Homo sapiens: one gene and its partners. The protein of the gene in region 3 purifies or fractionates together with the protein of the main gene of each other region. This does not show direct contact. Each region holds a gene or a part of one and is shown on either strand. Other genes may lie near its edges.

What was found.
Region 1: the proteins of PPP2R3A (region 3) and LIMD1 purify together in Homo sapiens (co-immunoprecipitation; 3 studies listed by BioGRID and IntAct, with this or other methods). This does not show direct contact.
Region 2: the proteins of PPP2R3A (region 3) and GAS2L1 purify together in Homo sapiens (co-immunoprecipitation; one large-scale study listed by IntAct). This does not show direct contact.
Region 4: the proteins of PPP2R3A (region 3) and PPP2R1B purify together in Homo sapiens (affinity purification with mass spectrometry; 2 studies listed by BioGRID and IntAct, with this or other methods). This does not show direct contact.
Region 5: the proteins of PPP2R3A (region 3) and SLX4 purify together in Homo sapiens (co-immunoprecipitation; one large-scale study listed by IntAct). This does not show direct contact.

What each region holds. Positions count from the first base shown.
Region 1 is NC_000003.12:45,597,385-45,601,551, forward strand, and holds part of LIMD1 (LIM domain-containing protein 1), read left to right. Parts: intron 1-4,167. UniProt on the Homo sapiens protein: Adapter or scaffold protein which participates in the assembly of numerous protein complexes and is involved in several cellular processes such as cell fate determination, cytoskeletal organization, repression of gene transcription, cell-cell adhesion, cell differentiation, proliferation and migration.
Region 2 is NC_000022.11:29,309,650-29,313,954, reverse strand, and holds the end of GAS2L1 (GAS2-like protein 1), read right to left. Parts: intron 3,517-4,305; coding exon 3,409-3,516; intron 3,318-3,408; coding exon 3,221-3,317; intron 3,129-3,220; coding exon 2,957-3,128; intron 2,494-2,956; coding exon 1,458-2,493; 3' UTR 1,168-1,457; downstream 1-1,167. Other genes in the region: RASL10A (ras-like protein family member 10A), read left to right, coding at 1-92, 387-654. UniProt on the Homo sapiens protein: Involved in the cross-linking of microtubules and microfilaments. Regulates microtubule dynamics and stability by interacting with microtubule plus-end tracking proteins, such as MAPRE1, to regulate microtubule growth along actin stress fibers.
Region 3 is NC_000003.12:136,000,066-136,004,232, forward strand, and holds part of PPP2R3A (serine/threonine-protein phosphatase 2A regulatory subunit B'' subunit alpha), read left to right. Parts: intron 1-993; 5' UTR 994-1,433; coding exon 1,434-3,428; intron 3,429-4,167. UniProt on the Homo sapiens protein: The B regulatory subunit might modulate substrate selectivity and catalytic activity, and might also direct the localization of the catalytic enzyme to a particular subcellular compartment.
Region 4 is NC_000011.10:111,742,149-111,746,315, forward strand, and holds part of PPP2R1B (serine/threonine-protein phosphatase 2A 65 kDa regulatory subunit A beta isoform), read right to left. Parts: intron 1,383-4,167; coding exon 1,228-1,382; intron 518-1,227; coding exon 375-517; intron 1-374. UniProt on the Homo sapiens protein: The PR65 subunit of protein phosphatase 2A serves as a scaffolding molecule to coordinate the assembly of the catalytic subunit and a variable regulatory B subunit.
Region 5 is NC_000016.10:3,590,440-3,594,606, reverse strand, and holds part of SLX4 (structure-specific endonuclease subunit SLX4), read left to right. Parts: intron 1-7; coding exon 8-154; intron 155-1,741; coding exon 1,742-1,908; intron 1,909-3,296; coding exon 3,297-4,167. UniProt on the Homo sapiens protein: Regulatory subunit that interacts with and increases the activity of different structure-specific endonucleases.

The DNA of each region.
Region 1 (4,167 bases), about 90 Mb from region 3:
ACCACAGCCGTGGCACAAACTATGATGGAAAATGTGTCTTCCTGGTTTTACTCAAACTTGCATGTTTTGTTTTATTCTCTTTTTTAAAACCACAAACTCTTGGAGACTGCTAGCTTCAACTTTTTTTCTTTGCACGAGGTTTAGTGGTAGTTGTATCTTTCTGTTGAGTAATGATTAGTTGTCTCATAAGAGAGCTAACTAGAAAGACAGCCTATTCGCAGAGAATCGGAGGGGTTTTTCTTTTTCAGTTTTTAACTTTGGATAATTGACCCCCGTGTTCCCCATAGCCTGAGTCCTGCTGGGGTAGCAGCTCTGCCTAGTGGAGGGCAGGGACAGGGAAGGCCCTGGGAGAGGAAGACAGCTGGCTTACTGCTGTCAGTCTACGCTTATTCTCCGTGAACGAGCAAGTGTCCCAAGGTCCTTTGAGGGACCAGGGTCTGAGGCACTGGGCTGCTGGATGTGTGCAGCTTATGGTAGCATTGTGTTTTGCTTCTCATGAGAACCTTGTGGGAGCCAGTTCTCACCCCATACTCAGCAGGCTGAGGTCAGGGTAGCTGTTTATGGCTTACTTTTTTTAAATTTATTTTTATTTATTTATTTGTTTATTTATTTATTTATTTTGAGACAAGGTCTTGCCTTGTTGCCCAGGCTGGAGTGCAGTGCACCCTAGACCTCCCGGACTCAAGGCATCTTCCTACCTCAGCCTCCTGAGTAGCTAGGACTACTTAAGAGGAAGCAGGGGAGGAAGGGGACGTGGAGGTGGGGGGTCCTCTCTAGGTTGCCCAGGCTGTTCTTCTGGGCTCAAGTGATCTTCCTGCCTCAGCCTCCCAAAGTGCTGGGATTACAGGTGTGAGCCACTGTGCCCGGCCTACTGGTTTATTTTTTAAAGCACATGGCACCATCTTACTGTGAACTATCTTTTCTCCTCAGCACATTCCCACATTTGGGAGTAATAGTTAGCTGGAAATACTGTGGGTCTTTTAATTTAAACTTTTGTTTAGTTGTAAATTTCAAGCTCATTGGACAACACAAACAGCAGTTTTATCTTGAGATGCAAGTTTATGCTGTGCATCAGAGCAACGGTATTAGCTGACGCTACTCATCCATTCAGCATATATTAAAATTTATTGAGCACCTATCTTGAGGCCATGCTCTATTCCAGGTCTTGGGGATACATAGTGAACAGGACAGACAGGAACCTCTGCCTCCCTGGAGCAGACAATGTAGTAGAAGGAGGCAGGGAGTGAATGAAGTAAATAAGCAAGTACTAGGGAGAGAATCAAGGTAGAGAAAGGGAATGGAGCCCTGGGGCTGGGGGTGGCAGAGAGATTTCCAGTTTTAAATTGGGTGATCAGGGAATGTCCCACCTAGAAGATGCATTTGAGCAAAGGCAGGCAGGAGACTGGACCATGTGTTTTCCCAGGGAAATGGTGTTCTTGGCAGAGCAGACAGCAAGCACAGAGTCCCTGTAGGCCTGGTCTGTGCTGGGCACTGTACTGAACACTTGATGCTGACTATTGAATTGACTGGTCACAGCATCCTTGGAAGCTGGTTCTGCCATTATGCCCATTTTACTGATGAGAAAACGGAAGCTCAGGGAGATTAAATTACTTACTGGCGGTGTCACAGGTCATATTGGGTACTGCTGGGACTTGAACCTGACAGTTCAGTTCAGCCTCAGGGCCCATGTGTCTAACCAGCATTGCCAAACAGTCTCCCAAGCAGAGATTTGGAAGCCTATTTTATTTATTTATTTTTATGGTTTTTTTTTAATTGAGATGAAATTCACATAATGTAAAATTAACCATTTTGAAGTGAACAATTCAGTGGTGTTTAATATTAATACATTCACAACGTTGTACAATGAACACCTCCGTCCAGTTCCAAAATGTTTTCGTCAACCCAAAAGGAAACCCCATACCCATAAAGCAATTGCTCCCTGTTTCCCCCATCCCCTCCCAGCTCCTGGCAACAACCAATGTGCATTCTGTCCCTATGGCATTTACCTATTCTGGAATTTCATTTAGAAACGGAATCGTGTATTTTATTCATTTTTTGTATAAACTTCACAGATAAGCAAGCACGCACAGTGAAAATCGAGCCTCTTTCCCTGGTCTGTCTAGTCAAGTGTTCTGGGTGTAATAAGCATGTGTGTGTTTCTGCCAGCCCCAGTGGTGGCATGCTGTTCCACTGCACAGCGTCTTGGCAGTGGCTCTACATCAGCATGTGTTCAGCTGGCTATACGTGGCTGCTGTGCAATGTGCCTAGGTCACCTAAGGTCACCTAAGCAGCCCTCACTGATGGGCCTTTGGAATGTACCCACCTACAAGGGGCAGGCGTAGCTGCAAGATGAGCTCCCAGGAGTGGGACTGTGGGGCTGCGTGGTTTGTGTCCTTTAGGTGTGGCTTGGTTGCTTCCTGCAGAGCTCATGCCAGGGCTGAGCTGCCAGCTATGTAGGAGAGGGTTTGCTCCACACCTGCTTTGGTGGCAGAGCTTCCATCTGCTCTTCTGCGACCTACCTTGGGGCAGAGGAGGAAGTCTTTCGGTCTGAAGATTGGCAGTCATTGCCTGGCCCTGTGTGGGGACCATGAAGAGACCACATGCTCCTCCAGACCACTCCTCCCTTGTCGGTAGCCTGAGGAGGCTGGACAGCTGAGGGGCTCCCTCCCACAGATACTTTTTCCTCCCCTACATCTGGTATTACTTGAAAGATTTTGTCTACCCAACACGCTACATTTGTTAAATAATGGTTAGATTCTACTTCCAAACAGAAGAATGTTTAATGGTGCAGGGCGCTTGGCAGTGAGAGTCAGAGTGACACAACTCCCCATGAGAGGTGATGTCACTCAGGCCAAAAGCAAAGCAAAGTAGATGTTTGGGTTAGCTTGGGCCCCTTCCTAGGTTGAACTGAAGGTGTCCCTTTGGGCATTTGACTTTGTGGGAAGAGCTTGTGAATCCCTGTTGCCACCTTTGTAAGCCCTTAGAGTCTCAAGATGCCCAGTTTCCAGTTACTGATTAACTTGGCACGGGAACTCTCCTGGCACTTTCCATGGCTGGTCTTTGTGGGTTTAGTAAAATAGGATCCTACAGAGGCGTGTCTCTTTCCCTACTCTGCTGGGCCTACTTCCTCCTCCAGCCATCCTCCCCACCCCCTGTCCCCGTTGCCTCTTTGTGTCTCTCTGTCCATGTTGTTGGGTTTTTGGTCTTCTAGGCGTTGCTCCTGGCCTACACCACCTAGTGCAGTGTGGCTTCTGTTTTAGCACCACTGCTGACACTGCAGAGGTGGGGTGCAGAGGGCACCGTGCCTTTGTTAGTTGTGCCCCACCGTCTCCTCCATGTGATCCACCTATCTTCCTCACACTGGTCCTCTTCTCCCTTTCTAAGGAAAAAGGACACAAGCCGGGTGTGGTGGCTCACACCTGTGATCCCAGCGACTCAAGAGACTGAGGCAGGAGAATTGCTTGAGCCCAGGAGTTTAAGACCAGCCTGGGCAACATAGTGAGACCCCATCTCTACAAAAAACACAAAAATTAGCCAGGCATGGTGGTGCACACCTGTAGTCCCAGCTACTTGGGAGGCTGAGGTGGGAAGATTGCTTGAGCCCAGGAGGCTGAGGCTGCAGTGAGATATGATCATGCCACTGCACTCCAGCCTGGGTGACAGAGGGAGACCCTGTCTCAAAACAAAAACAAAAACAAAAAACCCCACAAATAAACCACTTGTCATAGGCTGGGTTTCCTGGGAAGCTGACTGAGACAGAGTTGACCATACAAGGGCTTATTAAAAGGTGCTTTTGGGGTCCCCACCTGTGGAAGATGGAGAAGGAATCAGGAGTGGGTAGAGGAGAGCTGAGCTGCTGGGACCTGACCCCGCAGGGAGCCTGGGAGCTGGAAAAGTCCTTTAGGGTCATCCTAGTTGGCCTGACATGGCCTGGCCTTCACACTCCCTCATGGATCAGCTGTTGGCTGTGGGCTGCCCAGGAAGATGGTGACTTTGGGCGAGGCAGCTCTGTGCAGCTGGGATAGTCTCTTCAGGGGCTGACAGGAGGGCAACCTGCCTGCCGCACCCCAGCAGCTGTGCCCTCCCCTGTCCTCGCCTTCATCGAAGGGCCTTTGCAGCATCCCCACAGTGCCCCCTTCCTGGGGGCAGGTAGGAGCGGGTGACTTG
Region 2 (4,305 bases), on a different chromosome or scaffold from region 3:
GACACGGACGCCTTCGTGCTCGTCTACGACATCTGCAGCCCGGACAGTTTCGACTACGTGAAGGCCCTGCGGCAGCGCATCGCGGAGACCAGGTAGGGGCCCGGCAGTTCTGGCGGTGGGGAGCTAGGACAGGTCTGGCAGGGCCTTTGCCTGAGGAGAGTGTGTAGGGTCTCCCAACGTCGTGGGCCGGGTCTTAGGCCTTCGCCCGTGGGAAGGTCTTAAGCTGTATGTGCTCTTTGGCCCACATGGGCCTGGGGTTTCGTTGGGGCGGCGGGGGGGGCGGTGTCTCTGGCCGTAGGAAGGGAATGCGCCTGCGTGTGTATACCCACTGGGGGAATTCTCCGGCCGTGGGGTCCCCGCGTCTCTCATCTCCATTCGGCCCCCAGGCCGGCGGGCGCGCCCGAAGCGCCCATCCTCGTGGTAGGCAACAAGCGGGACAGGCAGCGGCTGCGCTTCGGACCGCGGCGCGCGCTGGCCGCCCTAGTGCGCAGGGGCTGGCGCTGCGGCTACCTCGAGTGCTCCGCCAAGTACAACTGGCACGTGCTGCGTCTCTTCCGCGAGCTGCTGCGCTGCGCTCTGGTGCGCGCGCGCCCTGCACACCCGGCCCTGCGCCTGCAGGGGGCGCTGCATCCCGCGCGCTGCAGCCTCATGTGACCCGATCGGACAGTGCCATCCATGGGCCCCACCTTGTGACTGGGACAATCAGGGACCTGGATTGGACGGGATCGCCCAACTTCACTGGGACTGGACAGGGAAGTCTCCGCCCTGATTGGATGAGGAAAGCTCCAACCCAGTCTCCTAAGCGACTGGCCCCCTTTTGAACCTCATTGGACCCAACCAGGTCCCAAGCTCCATTGGAGATGACCAGTCCTTTCTGGGACCTCAATGGGTCACAATCCCATTGGATGGAAAGGACTTGGCTATGAACTTGACTGGAAACACGCAGCCTGCTCCTGGAGCTTCACTGGACATATTCTTTATGCCACACCTACCACGGGATAATAAAAGGGAAAATAATTTGAGTGCGCCTGGGATTTCTGGGCTGGGCGGGATAACGCCTTAAGCCTAGAGGTCAGAGTTGCCAGGCTTGGCCTCCAGGCAGTTAACTCCAGGGTCCTCGAAAGGGTCTGAATGGCCCCAAGGTGGAGTCCCCAAGAAACAGACAGGTGGCTGGAGCAAAACTTTACTGTCAGAGGCTCTGCTGGGCCACAGGTCTTCAGAACACCGGGCTCGCCCGGCCTCCTCTAAGGCATTCAATAATATTAGTAATTAAATAGCAACGCTCATCCCCCAACCGGAATGTACAACAGAGGTCCCATTGTGCCATGTGGTCCCAAGGGGTCTGGTCCCATGAGGTCTGGTACTCAAGAGGCAGAGGGGGCTCCCTGATGCAGAAGGGTTAAGGCCACAAAGGAAAAGGAGAAGGGATGGGGTCTGGGGACAGCTGAGCTGGTCCATCACATCCAGGAATCTGGCTCAGCCCTCGGGGTGACTGAGTGCAGGGCATGCCATGTCCCCAGCTCTGCGGGTCCGGAGGGGCGGCGGGGGCCCCGAGGCGTGGGGATACGTGAGGGTTTACGGTCTGGCTGTGTGTCCATCCGACCCCGTGCCCAGGTCCTCGAGGGTTCAGTGCAAGCCAGGGGGCTCCCAGGTGCATCTAGTGGCCCCCCCATGCCAGGGCAGGGGCTGCCTTCATCGGAGGAGCTGGAAAGGGCTTGGCTTCGGGGCCCAGGCAGCCCATTGGCCGTCCGGCCAGAGTCCCCAGGTTGGCCACATTTGCCACCCAGGACGCTGAGGGACGAAGAGGAGGAACTGGAGGAACAATAGGCAGAGTCAGGAGCTGGAGGGTCGGGGGCCCGAGCTGGGTCAGGGGCTGGTCCAGTGGGGGTCACGCTAGCAACAGCCTCAAGGGCCCGGGCATTGGCCAGGAACTCCTCTTCCAGGCGCCGGAACAGCTGCTGCTCCTGCTGCGGGTCGAGCTGCAGGGGTGTGCGGAAGATGCTGGCCGGTGTGGTGCCCAACTCTGGACTGGGGCTGGAGACCCGGGAAAGCCGGGGTGCTGCAGGGCTGCGGGCACGGGGAGTCTGGGGGGTGCTCCTGCCCGAGCCCCCACTGCCCCTGCCCCTTGGCACCCATGAGTGCTGCCCGTCTCGATCCCTGCGCACAAGCAGCACAGCCTGCTCCTCGCGGCTCTGGCTCCGGGCCCGCCGGGCAGGGCTGGGGACCGACAGCTGGGCTCCCCTGCCTCCTGGGGCCCCCCGGGGCCGGCCGCGATCCAGCCGGTCTCGGGACTGGCTGCGCAGGGCAGGAGGCCGTCTCGGAGAGGCCGGGGTGCCTGTGGTCAGCCGCCGGCTGGGTCGCTCCCTCCGGGGGCCAGTGCCTGTGTCATCACTGCGGGTACCAAGGGGGCCGCTCTGGGCGGAGGAGGCTGAGGAGTCACTGTCCCCGGAGTAGCGGCGGGAGCGGGGATGGGGGGGCAGCTGATCCCGGGGCCTGGGGCAGGGGGACAATAGAGACAGATGGGGTACCACGGAAGGACTGGCATGCAGAACAGGCAGGGAGAGGAACAGCAGGGTATGTGGCTGGTGGACGGGGCTGTCAGGGGCATCGGTCTGTCCTGGGGACTTCCAGGGAGAAGTGAGCAGCTTCCTCCAGCGGCCCAGGGCCCCAAAAGCCACGGAAGAAGAAGTTTCCTGGGCTCTAGACACCCCCCTTCCCAGGACGGGCCAGAGGAAGCAAGAGCTGGACTGGCTGCCGCCCAGCCACAGGGCCCGCCCCAGCTGTGTTGTTGGTTTGGTTGGGTTGCCATGGAGATGGGAAGCCAGGCCCGCCCCCACCCACGGGAACTTTTCCCAGGGTGTGAGTCACTCTGGCGCACAGGCAACCCATCATGCAGGCCAGGGCTGACGCCCCCCCACCCTCTGGACCCCTCACTCCTCGTCCTCCTGCATCTCACCTGGGTGGGGTCTCGGGCCCCTCCTTTGTGCTTCGTAAGCTAACGGGAGTCATCTCAGGCCGGGAGCCCCGGCGCTCACTCCCAGGGACTGGGCTAGCAGGGCGGGGACTGGTGGTGGGCGACACCCTCTGTGGAGAAAAGGTGCAGACCCTCGGCTGGGGTGGGCGATGAGCTGCGGGGAGAGAGGACAGGCAGCATGTGAGGGACAGAGCCACAGAAGCAAGTCCCCTGCCCGTCCAGCCCCAGCCCCACCCTGGCACTGACCAGTGGAGGAGCAGCGGCACGGGTCGTGCTTGTCCAGGTAATGCTCCAGCGTGTCCCAGCCACCACCCACTCGCACCATCACGTGGCTCCTCAGCACCTGCAGGTGTGGGCAGGTCACGGCTGTGCCCCGGGCGCCCCGCAGCCCACCACCTTGGCTGCTGCCCGCTGGGGCGGCCCCAGGCCCTTACCCGCACAAAGATGAGCAGGCTCGAGTCCCCCACACGGTACTTCCCCTCTGAGACCTTGATCATGGGAAACTGGTCAGGGCAGGTGCAGCGGCCCAGAATCTCCCTCACCTGAGGCCAGAGAGAGAGGGTAGGGGTCAGAGGTCAAGTCCTCCTCCTGGGGCTTAATGTCAGCCATTCCAGGGTCAGGAGGAAGTCAGGCTTTCCGGGTAAGTGGATGGAGGCAGTGTTGCCCCGGATGGGGTACAGCTTCCACACGTGACCTTTCTTTTATTTTTTTTATTTTTTTTTATTTTTTTTTTTTTTTGAGTTGGAGTTTTGCTCTTGTTGCCCAGGCTGGAGTGCAATAGCACGATCTCGTCTCACCGCAACCTCCGCCTTCCAGGTTCAAGCAATTCTCCTGCCTCAGCCTCCTGAGTGGCTGGGATTACAGGCATGCACCACCACTCCCGGCTAATTTTGTATTTTTAGTAGAGATGGGGTTTCTCCATGTTGGTCAGGCTCAGGAGTTCCACCCGCCTCGGCCTCCCAAATTGCTGGATTACAGGTGCGAGCCACCACGCCCGGCCCACACATGACCTTTCACCGGCTCCCCTTTCTTGGCTCTCTGGGTCCAGGGAGCTGCCCAGGATGAGATGATGGGACTGTGGTCAGGCCATGGTCTGAGACCCGGTGACGAACATCCCACAGCCCCTAGACCTGGGGAAGGCCCAGAGCCCGTCCTCACTCCCGCTTCACCCACTTCTCAGACAAGAAGGCTGGGGCCCACAGGAAGGCCAGGCAGGCTACAGGACACAGGTGCAGGGGGCCCCATGCCCCTGGGTGGGCACTGATGTGGAGGCGTACCACAGACACATCGGACACATGCACACACAGACCACTGGCCGGGTGAGCACGCAC
Region 3 (4,167 bases):
CCTTGGCCTCCTTCCTCTAGTCTTTCAGGTCTCTGCTTTTCAGATGTCAGTGAGGTCTTCTCTGACAACCCTTCATAAAACAGCACCCTCCCAGCATTTCTAAACCCTTGCCCTGCATCATTTTTCTCCCCAACACATGCCACCATATGATAAGTTTATATGTTTAACTTGTATGTTGGGTTTTTTCCCCTTGTTTTATTTCCTGCTCTATCCCTAGTGTATACAAAGAACCTGGTACACACAGTAGGTAGTCAGTATTTGTTGACGGAATAAATACATTGACAGAACCTTCTTGGAAAGCAACTACAGTATATTTTAAAAGCTGTTCTTTAAAAAGAATGATTAAGTAAATTCTGTCCACTTGATGCAGAGAGAGAGATATCCACATGGAGCAGGGTCTGGGAGATGGGATCAAGATCAGTAATGAAACTTGTGTTTTCTTTCAGTAAGCAAAAAGAAGATGATGGGAGAATAATTTCTAGGAGTAGAGGAAGTTTGAGACTCAAGAACAGGTACTAGGTGTTGGTAGTCTTTGAGAAGACTAGGTTGATGGAAGCAAAAGGTTGGTGCAGGGACATAGTAGAAAATATGATTATAGATGGATTGGAACAGGTGTTGAGGGACTTAAAAGTGAGTCAAAAGAGGTAGACTTGCTGTGATCCATGAGGAAATCAGAAGTGTGAATTTTTAAGCTGTGAGGGATGAAAATGCCGTGTAAATCTAAGCTTCTTAATATCATATAAGGTGGCAAGGAGCATGCAATAAGAAATTCATCTCAGAGGCAGATGTGACAAGGCAGAGTTGAGGTAATATTACTCTAGGCAATAAGGAGTATAAGGTGTGATGAAACAAAGGCATGAGTTGAATATCAGCTGTAAGGGATATTGCAGATAATAAAGCGTGGTGGTTAACTGCAAATGGGATGCAAAGAAAGAGGAAATCAAAAGTTCCAGCATTAAAAAAATTTCCTTTTAATTTTTTTTTTTATTACAGGTTTCTCTGTCATTCACAGAAAAATGAATCATTTAAACCTTTGGAGGACTCAGTTATCACAATACTTCTCTACTACCAACTAAGATTTATGATAGTAAATTTATGAGAGCAAATTTCCATGTTATAGAACTGTTGAAGAACTAAAAGAGGATATTCTTTCATCAAAATAATTCTGCAGTATCATAATATTACTAAATAAAATTAAAAAGCACAATTATTAAATTATTAAATTTGCCACACATGTGCAGCAGCTACTGTATCCTGATAGTGACCAAACCTCAAATATAAATGGTTTCCCTTCATGGGAAAAGCCATTATATTTGGAAGAAACCACTGAACATTGTTATTAAATATATTTTCAGCTAACTGTCATTTAGGAGAATTTTCATGAAACAAGTTCTAGAAAGTTCCAAGTCCCACCAGTAAGTGGATTTGATATTATGGCAGCAACTTACAGACTTGTGGTTAGTACTGTGAACCACTACAGCAGCGTGGTGATAGACCGGCGTTTTGAACAAGCTATACATTATTGCACTGGAACCTGCCACACCTTCACACATGGAATTGACTGCATTGTGGTACACCATAGTGTTTGTGCAGACCTCTTGCACATCCCTGTGTCTCAGTTCAAAGATGCAGATCTGAACTCTATGTTTCTACCCCATGAAAATGGGCTTTCTTCGGCTGAAGGAGACTATCCCCAACAGGCCTTCACAGGCATACCCAGGGTCAAGAGAGGATCTACATTTCAGAATACCTACAACTTAAAGGATATTGCAGGAGAAGCAATCAGTTTTGCCAGTGGGAAAATAAAAGAATTTTCCTTTGAAAAACTCAAAAACTCTAACCATGCAGCTTACAGAAAGGGAAGGAAAGTTAAGTCTGACTCATTTAATAGGAGGTCAGTTGATTTGGACTTGCTTTGTGGCCATTATAACAACGATGGGAACGCCCCATCCTTTGGTTTACTGCGGAGTTCCTCAGTTGAGGAAAAACCTTTGTCTCATAGAAACTCACTGGATACGAACCTGACTTCCATGTTTCTTCAAAACTTTTCTGAAGAAGACTTGGTTACTCAGATTTTGGAAAAACATAAAATAGATAATTTTTCTTCTGGGACAGACATAAAGATGTGCTTGGACATCTTATTGAAATGCTCCGAGGATTTAAAAAAATGCACAGACATCATAAAACAATGCATAAAGAAAAAATCAGGGAGTAGCATCAGTGAAGGAAGTGGTAATGATACAATTTCTAGCTCTGAAACTGTCTATATGAATGTAATGACCAGGTTAGCATCCTATCTGAAAAAGTTACCATTTGAATTCATGCAGTCTGGGAATAATGAGGCTCTAGATTTAACAGAACTGATCAGTAATATGCCTAGCTTACAACTGACTCCCTTCTCCCCAGTGTTTGGCACTGAACAACCCCCTAAATATGAAGATGTTGTCCAGCTCTCAGCTTCTGACTCTGGACGATTTCAAACTATTGAATTGCAAAATGACAAGCCTAATTCTAGGAAGATGGACACTGTACAATCCATTCCAAACAACTCCACAAATTCCTTATATAACTTAGAGGTAAATGATCCTAGAACTCTAAAAGCTGTCCAGGTCCAATCACAGTCATTAACCATGAATCCTTTAGAAAATGTTTCTTCTGACGACTTAATGGAAACTCTTTATATTGAAGAAGAGTCAGATGGAAAGAAAGCATTAGATAAAGGACAAAAGACAGAGAATGGACCTAGTCATGAGTTATTAAAGGTAAATGAACATAGAGCAGAATTTCCAGAACATGCTACTCATCTTAAAAAATGCCCCACCCCAATGCAAAATGAAATTGGTAAGATATTTGAGAAATCATTTGTTAATCTACCTAAGGAAGACTGTAAATCAAAAGTTTCTAAATTTGAAGAGGGAGACCAGAGAGATTTTACAAATTCCAGTAGCCAGGAAGAGATAGATAAATTGTTAATGGATTTGGAATCTTTTTCACAGAAGATGGAGACCTCTCTAAGAGAGCCACTTGCGAAGGGTAAAAACTCTAATTTTTTAAATAGTCACAGTCAGTTGACCGGTCAGACCCTTGTAGATCTTGAGCCTAAATCTAAAGTCTCTTCACCCATAGAAAAAGTCTCACCTTCCTGTCTAACAAGGATTATTGAAACCAATGGACACAAAATAGAGGAAGAGGATCGAGCCCTCTTACTGCGAATCCTGGAAAGCATTGAAGACTTTGCTCAAGAACTAGTTGAATGCAAATCAAGCAGAGGGAGCCTATCACAAGAAAAGGAAATGATGCAAATTCTACAGGAAACCTTGACAACTTCCTCCCAGGCCAATTTATCAGTCTGTAGAAGTCCTGTTGGTGATAAAGCCAAAGATACTACTTCAGCAGTTTTGATTCAGCAGACTCCAGAGGTGATCAAGGTAAGACCCAACAATTTTGAGTCCTAGGAACTCTTTAAAAAATGTTTAGTGTTTGAAAATTTTATAAAGAAAAACTTTTTTGTTAGCCATTTTTTGTTCTACTAAAGCTCTGCCCTACACTAGGAATGATCTCACTCAGCTCAGAGTCAGTAAAAAGCAAAGATTATACAAGATGATAGAGGAAAAAAAAAAAGCAAAGACTTTAGACTCAGACTGGTTCCTACTGCCCTCCCCATACCCTTCATCTTCTTCCCAGCTCTGTGACCAAAGAAAAATTACTTACCTTTAATATCCTCATCTTTATGGTGGAAATAATAAGGATCAAAATAACTTGTGTGAAACATAAGCAAGGTTCCTTACACAAAGTAGGCATTTAATATTAGTCGTCACCCTCCCCAGCCAACCAAGAGACCAGTTGTTACTGCATGCCTGTGTAGACCTGTGTAAGGTTAGTGTAGAGTACAAAAGGAGAGAAGACATGATTCTTTAAGAGCTTAAAATCCACTTGTAGAGACAAAACTGACAATGTCTGAAACAGTTCATGAGCATGTGAACACCATTCTGAAAGTATTGTCATAACAGTAGGCCTTCAAAGAAGATAAAGACTAAAGGGTAAGATTTGATTCTCCAGGCAACTGAGAATAAATATCAATCTAGAATCACGGAAGTATTTTCAAAAGTTTTTAATCCATCCCCCTACTGAAAGCACTGCTTTTGAATACTCCCAGAAAGGCAGTTG
Region 4 (4,167 bases), on a different chromosome or scaffold from region 3:
CATTCAAAAGTATTATCTGTGAAAGACAGTCTAATGGGCCATAGAAATCCTTTTTGGTGTATATGGTTAATGGTAATTGTTAAAATTTAAAGTAAAAAAATAAAGACATTTATAAACTTGACAAATACACAAAATAATGTCTAAAGAAATTCTCAGCAAAATCAGCTTCAGACAAGGATCTACACATTTACAGAGCTTAAATATAAAAGTCATAGTGGACATCCTCAAAAATAGTTGCTAAATTATTTTCTTTAAGCAAACCCAGATCTTAAGTAAAGTGAAAATCCCTGAACTTAATTTTAGCTAATTACTCCCCACTATAAGGTAAAATTTAAAGTACACTTTTAAAACAAGACTAAACACTAAAATCTTACTTGGTATCTAGAATTGGTCCAATCTTTTGTAGAGATTTGGCCACATTGAAGCGAACATTTGCTACTTGGTCTCCTGCCATTTTTAATACGATGGGCAGCATTTGCTTAGTAGTTATTTCCTGACCACAGGCCTCAGACAGTGCCTAGAAAAATAAGTAAGATGGCACATTTAAAATACTTTAAAAAATTCCAAAATCTAATGAAACAAATTAATATTTAATAAGAAAATAATTGACCAATAGGAAAATATTTCTAGTTTGAGCAGCTGAGTGGGGGACACAAGAATCATTCAAATGATCAGAGAATTAGACCAGAATTCACAAATAAGTTGAACTTTTAAAATACTGTAGTTTTGTTCTTTGTTTTTTTTTTTTTCAGGCGGAGTTTTGCCTTGTCGCCCAAGCTGGAGTGTAGTGGCGCGATCTCAGCTCACTGCAACCTCTGCACCCTCTGCCCCCTGCCCAAGGTTCAAGGGAGTCTCCTGCCTCAGCCTCCCAAGTAGCTGGGACTACAGGCATGCACCACCATGCCCGGCTAATTTTTGTATTTTTAGTAGAGACAAGGTCTTGCCATGTTGACCAGGCTAGTCTCAAACTCCTGACCTCAGGTGATCTGCCCGCCTCAGCCTCCCAAAGTGCTGGGATTACAGGCATGAGCCACTGTGCCCAGCCAATACTGTAGATTTTAACATGAATTTTAAAATTGACATTTTCTCTCATCTCCTGTCTATTCCAATTAATCAATACAAGACATATATTCCAAATAGAAGACAGTATACTGATAATTCAGAAATAGTCATGAATAATTTTGCTTTAATGATTAAGCTTAGCAATAACAGTTATGTTATACTTACATTAATGCAGAATAAAGTGGTCATTCTATGCAAGTAATTAGGATCATTTGCCATTACTAACACTTTGGGAACAATAGTATTTTGGGCCCACTCTGTACCAAACTTCTGAACTAGTTTCATGAGGTTGTTGGTGGCAGCTTCTCGGATGGCGTATACTGCAGAAGAGGTCAAAAACATGTTCTCATATCGCTTATTGTTTTTTAAGCATAACCTAGTTTACTTACATGAAAATCAAATGTGGACCAAAAGCAAAACCCCTCTGCAATCAGACTCCACATGTAATCATGCTGCAATGACAAGCATGCTCAGCTCCAACTCAGTTTCCAAGTGTGCATATCCACAGAAAAGGGATGCAAGGAGCTCACCATATGCATCATCAATTATTTAACAAATACAAGTGCCTACTATGTGCTACAAAAAGAACACAGAAGATACTTTCCCTCACAAGAAATATGCTCTTATCAGAGAAATGAAAGCTAACACACTCCATGAAGTCACATGGTGTAAGAGCAATTAGAATGAAGTGTGGCATTGTGTAGTAAAGGCTGTGAGGGTTGTAGCAGTGCAGAGAAGAGTGAACAGGGAAGGTCTAGGAAGGCTTCGGCACAGAAAGAAGCCTTGACTGGGCAGTGAAGATTTGGGAGGATCTGTGTAAGTGGAGAGAAGCGGGGAGGAATTCCTAGAAAGGGTAAAGACATGTATCCAGGACACAAACAGAAAAAACTGAAACCTGTGAGACTTCTAAGTTAGACAATTAGGGTGGACCCAGACTGCAGAGCATTATGAAAGACTTAGATTTGATTAGGAAAAACAGTGATGGGTTTTTAAAGCAAACTTGTGACCTGATGACCAATGTGGAATTTTAGCAAGATTATTCCAGCAACATCACGGAGAAGCGACGTTGACTGAGAAAGACAACAAGGAAATGGTGTAGAGGCCACTGTGGTCATCTATACAACAGCAAATACAAACATCAGACTGACTTGCTTCCTCTCCATGAAAATGCTTAGGTTGAAACAAGATGTCAAATGTCTTTGAATCAATGTGCCTGCCTTAACATCTAATAATTCCCTATATCCTTTGATCATTTATCAAAGACATAAAGCTAGATAATAAAGGTCTCAGCTACAATCCTCTCACAATTAGTTGCTATATACAGCACTGAACAAAAACAAGCCTGGTGTCACTTCACTTTACAGATCCAGTAAGACTCAAAATTTGGGCTCAGATTAACAAATCGAGGGTGGTAGGTACTAATTCCTTATTCTACTTCTCTCCCCAGGTGGGCCCAACCTTCCTGGGATGATAGGAAGGGCAGGAATAGCTATCCAAGCCACAGTCCCAGTCCTAGGCAATTTATACAAGCCTCCAACCAAGAAATAGGCAACTTCTTCTATTCATAGATCCTTCTGGGCAATGATGTTGAGAACAAGCAAGACAGCATAGACAAGTGACCCATACAACTGATTATCAACACTTAAACTGACAGTCTACAGGAGAAGCAACCTTTCGGTAAGACTCAGATGCACTAAGGAGCAAACTCAAGTCAACTGTTTTACTGTAATACAGATTCCTTCCCTTCATATCCATAGTCTTTGTCTTTGGCCCAAACCCTTCCCTGTCCTCCCCACTAAAGAGGAGCTAGCTAGAGTATTTGTGTCTTCTCCTCTAATTTTTTTTTTTTTTTTTTTTTTGAGACAGAGCCTCACTCTGTCTCTCAGGCTGGAGTGCAGTGGCGAGATCTCGGCTCACTGCAACCTCCGCCTCCTGGGTTCAAGCAACTCTCCTGCCTCAGCCTCCTGAGTAGCTGGGATTACAGGCGCCCGCCAACACATCCAGCTAATTTTTGTGTTTTTAGTAGAGACAGGGTTTCACCATGTTGGCCAGGCTGGTCTCGAACTCCTAACTTCAAGTCATCCACCCGCCTCAGCCTCCCAAAGTGCTGGGATTACAGGCATGAGCCACCATGCTCAGCAAATTACTATTTTTTTTAACACGCTTTAGATTTTTATCATAATGCCATTACCATAGGAAGGGATCTCTACTGCCAGAAAAACCAGAGACTGGGGAACACACATGCATAGCCTTGACCAAGACCTTAACTGCACTGAACTCTACTTGGCCAGATGCCTACTATGTTCTTGGTTCCTCTGACTGTTTTCAGAAGAATGCAAACCATTCCAGAGTTCTGCCTGTTTTCTTTTGTCTATTTCTGTCTCTTTCTCTCTCCCCATCTCCTCTCAAGGCCTGGCTGACCTGCAAGGTTTCTTTGAATGTCTATCTATGCTCAATAACTGATACCTTCTCCTTTCTCCTATAATAAATAAATAAATTTCCCTTCTACATTCCTCCCTCTGATCAAAACTGTCTACTCAACCACAGGAATATAGGTGAGTGATACTTTCTTCCTTATACTTCTCTGGAATTTTCACAATGTTCTTTTAGTAGTTACCTAACTAGGGGAAAAGTTTCAAAAACTCTAACTGATCCAGTGATCATTATATAACACTTATCTGAAATGCAAAAGCAAAAAAGCTCCTGTGATTAAGTACAAAACAATTTCAGAGCTGTTATTTCATTGGTTCATGGAACTCTTGCAGTCCCCACTTCAGCATGCTGCTGCAGTGAAATAAACAAGGGTTTCTCCTGCTCCCAAACTGAAAGAGAAAATCCGAAAAGAGGAAGGAGTAATCAAGTTGCATAGAGAAGACAATCTTACAGAGAAAGGGTGCCAGGAATTTAATTCTTTGTGGAATATTAGAACTTTAAAAATTCCTCAAAATAAAACACCATCTTAATCTAAAATGCCAACTTTTAAAGAAAGCATAGAATGACTTGAGGCCAACCCAAATGCCCATCAATGACAGACTGGATAAAGAAAATGTGGCACATATACACCACGGAATACTATGCGGCCATAAAAAAGGAATGAGTTCATGT
Region 5 (4,167 bases), on a different chromosome or scaffold from region 3:
GCTTCAGCTCTCCCTCGGGCTGCTGGTTGCTGACTTTGGCGCCATGGTCAATAACCCACACCTGAGTGATGTCCAGTTTCAGACGGACAGCGGGGAGGTGCTTTACGCCCACAAGTTCGTGCTTTATGCCCGATGCCCGCTCCTCATCCAGTATGTAAGTACGTGGGCTGCCGTGTGCCCTCCTTTCCTCTCTCTCCCTCTCTCCTCCTGCCTTTCTCCAACCAGGTCTTCCCATGTCTCAGGTGCCCTTTCCACCCCCCCACTCTCCCTCACTTCCTGCCCCACCATGTTCTCACCTTCTCCCTCCCAACCATCCGTTTCTGCAACACGTGGAGAAGAGATAAAGACCCACGCTTGAGGTTAGGAGTGGGTGTGAGGGGATGGCCTCACAACTGGGAAACATCAGTGTTTTCGTTCTGTTGAATGAAAATCCATTGTTTGGCCGGGCGCGGTGGCTCACGCCTGTAATTCCAGCACTTTGGGAGGCCGAGGCGGGCAGATCACAAGGTCAGGAGATCAAGACCATCCTAACACAGTGAAACCAGTCTCTACTAAAAATACAAAAAAATTAGCCGGGCATGGTGGCGGGCGCCTGTAGTCCCAGCTACTCGGGAGGCTGAGGCAGGAGAATGGCATGAACCTGGGAGGCGGAGCTTCCAATGAGCTGAGATTGCACCACTGCACTCCAGCCTGGGCGACAGAGCAAGACTCTGTCTCAAAAACAAAACAAAACAAAAAGAAAATCCATTGTTTCCCAGAATTGTTTTCTCTTTTCTCTATTTGCATAATTACAAAGGCTCATAATTGATCTCCTCAGGGATGAGTTGCTGATGAACCTGCCTTCTGACTTGAAAGCATTTGACTTGAGTGTGGGCAGGAACTCAGGGAGCTATTCTCAGTCTTTGTCAAAGTTCTGGATCCCATATGTGTCTATCAGGAGGACTCTTAACGGGGTCCTGGAATATCTAGTCCCAATACGATTTGACAAAAGAGGAGTGTTAGGCCTCACCTGTAAAATTATTGGCCAAAAATCTGCATAAACAGTGGCTAATGCTTTTCCTGGGGCATGGAGCTGCTTTTAAGACTAGGGACCAGGCACGGCGGCTCATGCCTGAGATCCCCGTACTTTGGGAGACTAAGGTGGGAGGATCGCTTGAGGCCAGGAGTTCAAGACCAGCCTGAACAACACAGTGAGAGCCCATCTCTACAAAAAAATTTAAAAATTAGCCTAGGGGCTGGGCGCAGTGGCTCACGCCAGTAATCCCAGCACTTTGGGAGGCCGAGGAGGGTGGATCACCTGAGGTCAGGAGTTCCAAGACCAGCCTGGCCAACATAGTGAAACCTTATCTCTACTGAAACTATAAAAAATTAGCCGGGCATGGTGGTGGGCGGCTGCAATCCCAGCTACTCGGGAGGCTGAGGCAGGAGAATACGCTGGAACCGAGGAGGTGGAGGTTGCAGTGAGCCGAGATCTCACCACTGCACTCCAGCCTGGGCAACAGAGAGAGATTCCAACTCAAAATAATAAAATTAATTAAAATTTAAAATTAGCCTAGGAGTTCAAGGCTGCAGTAAGCCATGATCACACCACTGTACTCTAGCCTGGGTGACAAGGGGAGACACTGTCTCTAAAAAGAAAAATAAAAAGACTAGTGACTTGCAGGACACCCCAGACCGTCTGCTTTGCTCCAAGTTACAACTCTCTGATCAGTAAACCCTCTGTGTTGCATTTCACCTGCAGGTGAACAATGAAGGCTTCTCCGCTGTAGAGGACGGGGTTCTGACCCAGCGTGTCCTGCTGGGTGACGTGAGCACCGAGGCCGCCCGCACGTTCCTGCACTATCTCTACACTGCGGACACTGGCCTTCCTCCTGGCCTTAGCTCTGAGCTGAGCTCCCTGGCCCACAGGTCTGGATTGCTCCCCAGCTTTTGAAATTAACTGACGAGGACTGGCAGGTTAACAGCTCTGGAGGGTTGTGCTGCAGAGGGCTCGGGGCTGAGGCCAAGAGAACTAACAGTCCTGTTTATACCTTTTAATCCCAAGTCCATGACCAGTGATGACCCTGTGGAACAGGGCATGTTAGGTGAAAGTCAGGCCAGAACAGACCCTTGCAGGGGTGCCAAGCACTGGATCAGGAGGACTCTATTGAGTCCCGTGGTTTTTAACCCCCTAGGTGTGATAAGAGAATGGCCCTTGGCTACAGCGCCCCCCAACACTGCTGCTCAGTGATTGTTCCACCACTAGACCTGAACAACAGCAGTCCTTTCCAGAGTCCCATAAAACAGGCATGGAGAGAATGCTTAGGCTGCATCCCAGATGCCACAGCTCTCCTGGCTTGTCCAGCCAGCATCTTAGGAGAGAGGCAGCAGCTCAGAGGGACAAGTGTTGTGCCTCTGGACAGGGCCTGGGCCGCTGATCCGAGCCTGCGTCCTCCCTCCGCTGCTTTCTTAGGAAAGGAACAGCTCAGCCTCTGGAGTTGGAAATATACTGACGGGCCACAGAGCCTTCAAGCAGGTGGCTGGCTGGCTTGCCCGTTGGCCTGGGCTGACTCAAGGACTTGGTGTGCTGTGGATTGTGTCTGATGCCATGTCTTTTCATTTATTTTTTATTTTTTGGAGAGACGGAGTGTCGCTGTGTTGCCCAGGCTGTTCTTGAACTCCTGACCTCAAGCAATCCTCCTGCCTCCGCCTCCCAAAGTGCTGGGATTATGGGCATGAGCCACCATGCATGACCTTTTTTATCCTTTTAGAGACAGAGTCTCTTGCTGTTGCCCAGGCTGGATGGCAGTGGCATGATCACAGCTCACTGTAGCCTTGAACTCCTAGGCTAATTTTTACATTTTTTTGTAGAGATGGAGACTTTCTATGTTGTCCAGGCTGATCTCAAACTCCCGGCCTTGAGTGATCCTCGGCTTCCCAAAGTGCTGGAATTTCAGGCATGAGCCACAATGCCTGGCTCTGACACCATATCTTAAGAGCCTCTGAGGCAGCACAGACTCCCCAGTTTTGTAGCTCTGCCAATCCCTGTTACCTTACATTCAGTCCGACACACCCCTTTATGTCTGCAGCTATAGTTAGGAAGCCCTGCTTTAAGTGTTGTCAGTCCCCGGTTTCTGGAACTAAGTGGCCTGGGTGTTTCTGGCAAGGAGTGTGGACACCGTCTTCAAAGGGAAGCAGGGCCTGGGTCATGGTCATTCCTCCTGGTGAAGACTCTGCTCTGGTCCGCCACCCCACCGGGGCACCCAGAGCCCATCTCCACGCAGAGGGGCGATGACTGTCGATGTTTCGTGTTGCAGGTTTGGCGTGAGTGAGCTCGTTCACCTGTGCGAACAGGTGCCTATTGCCACTGACTCAGAGGGCAAACCATGGGAGGAGAAGGAAGCAGAGAATTGCGAAAGCAGGGCCGAGAATTTCCAGGAACTCTTGAGGTCAATGTGGGCAGATGAAGAGGAGGAAGCGGAGACTTTGTTGAAATCCAAGGACCACGAAGAAGATCAAGAAAACGTGAATGAAGCAGAAATGGAAGAAATTTATGAATTTGCAGCTACTCAGCGAAAGCTTCTCCAGGAAGAAAGGGCAGCGGGTGCCGGCGAGGACGCTGACTGGCTGGAGGGTGGCAGTCCGGTTTCTGGGCAACTCCTAGCAGGTGTCCAGGTGCAGAAACAGTGGGACAAGGTGGAGGAGATGGAGCCGTTGGAGCCAGGAAGAGATGAGGCCGCCACCACCTGGGAGAAGATGGGACAGTGCGCTCTCCCGCCACCCCAGGGCCAGCACTCAGGGGCACGGGGAGCAGAGGCCCCTGAGCAGGAGGCGCCAGAGGAGGCGCTTGGCCATTCCAGCTGCTCCAGCCCTTCCAGGGACTGCCAGGCAGAGAGAAAAGAAGGCTCTCTTCCGCACTCAGATGATGCCGGGGATTACGAACAGCTCTTCTCATCAACTCAGGGAGAGATCTCAGAGCCGTCCCAAATAACAAGTGAGCCCGAGGAACAAAGTGGCGCTGTCAGGGAAAGGGGGCTGGAGGTTTCTCATCGCCTGGCTCCCTGGCAGGCATCTCCACCGCACCCGTGCCGCTTCCTATTGGGGCCTCCCCAGGGCGGGAGTCCCCGCGGGTCTCATCACACAAGTGGGTCGTCCCTGTCAACACCCCGGTCCCGTGGCGGAACTTCC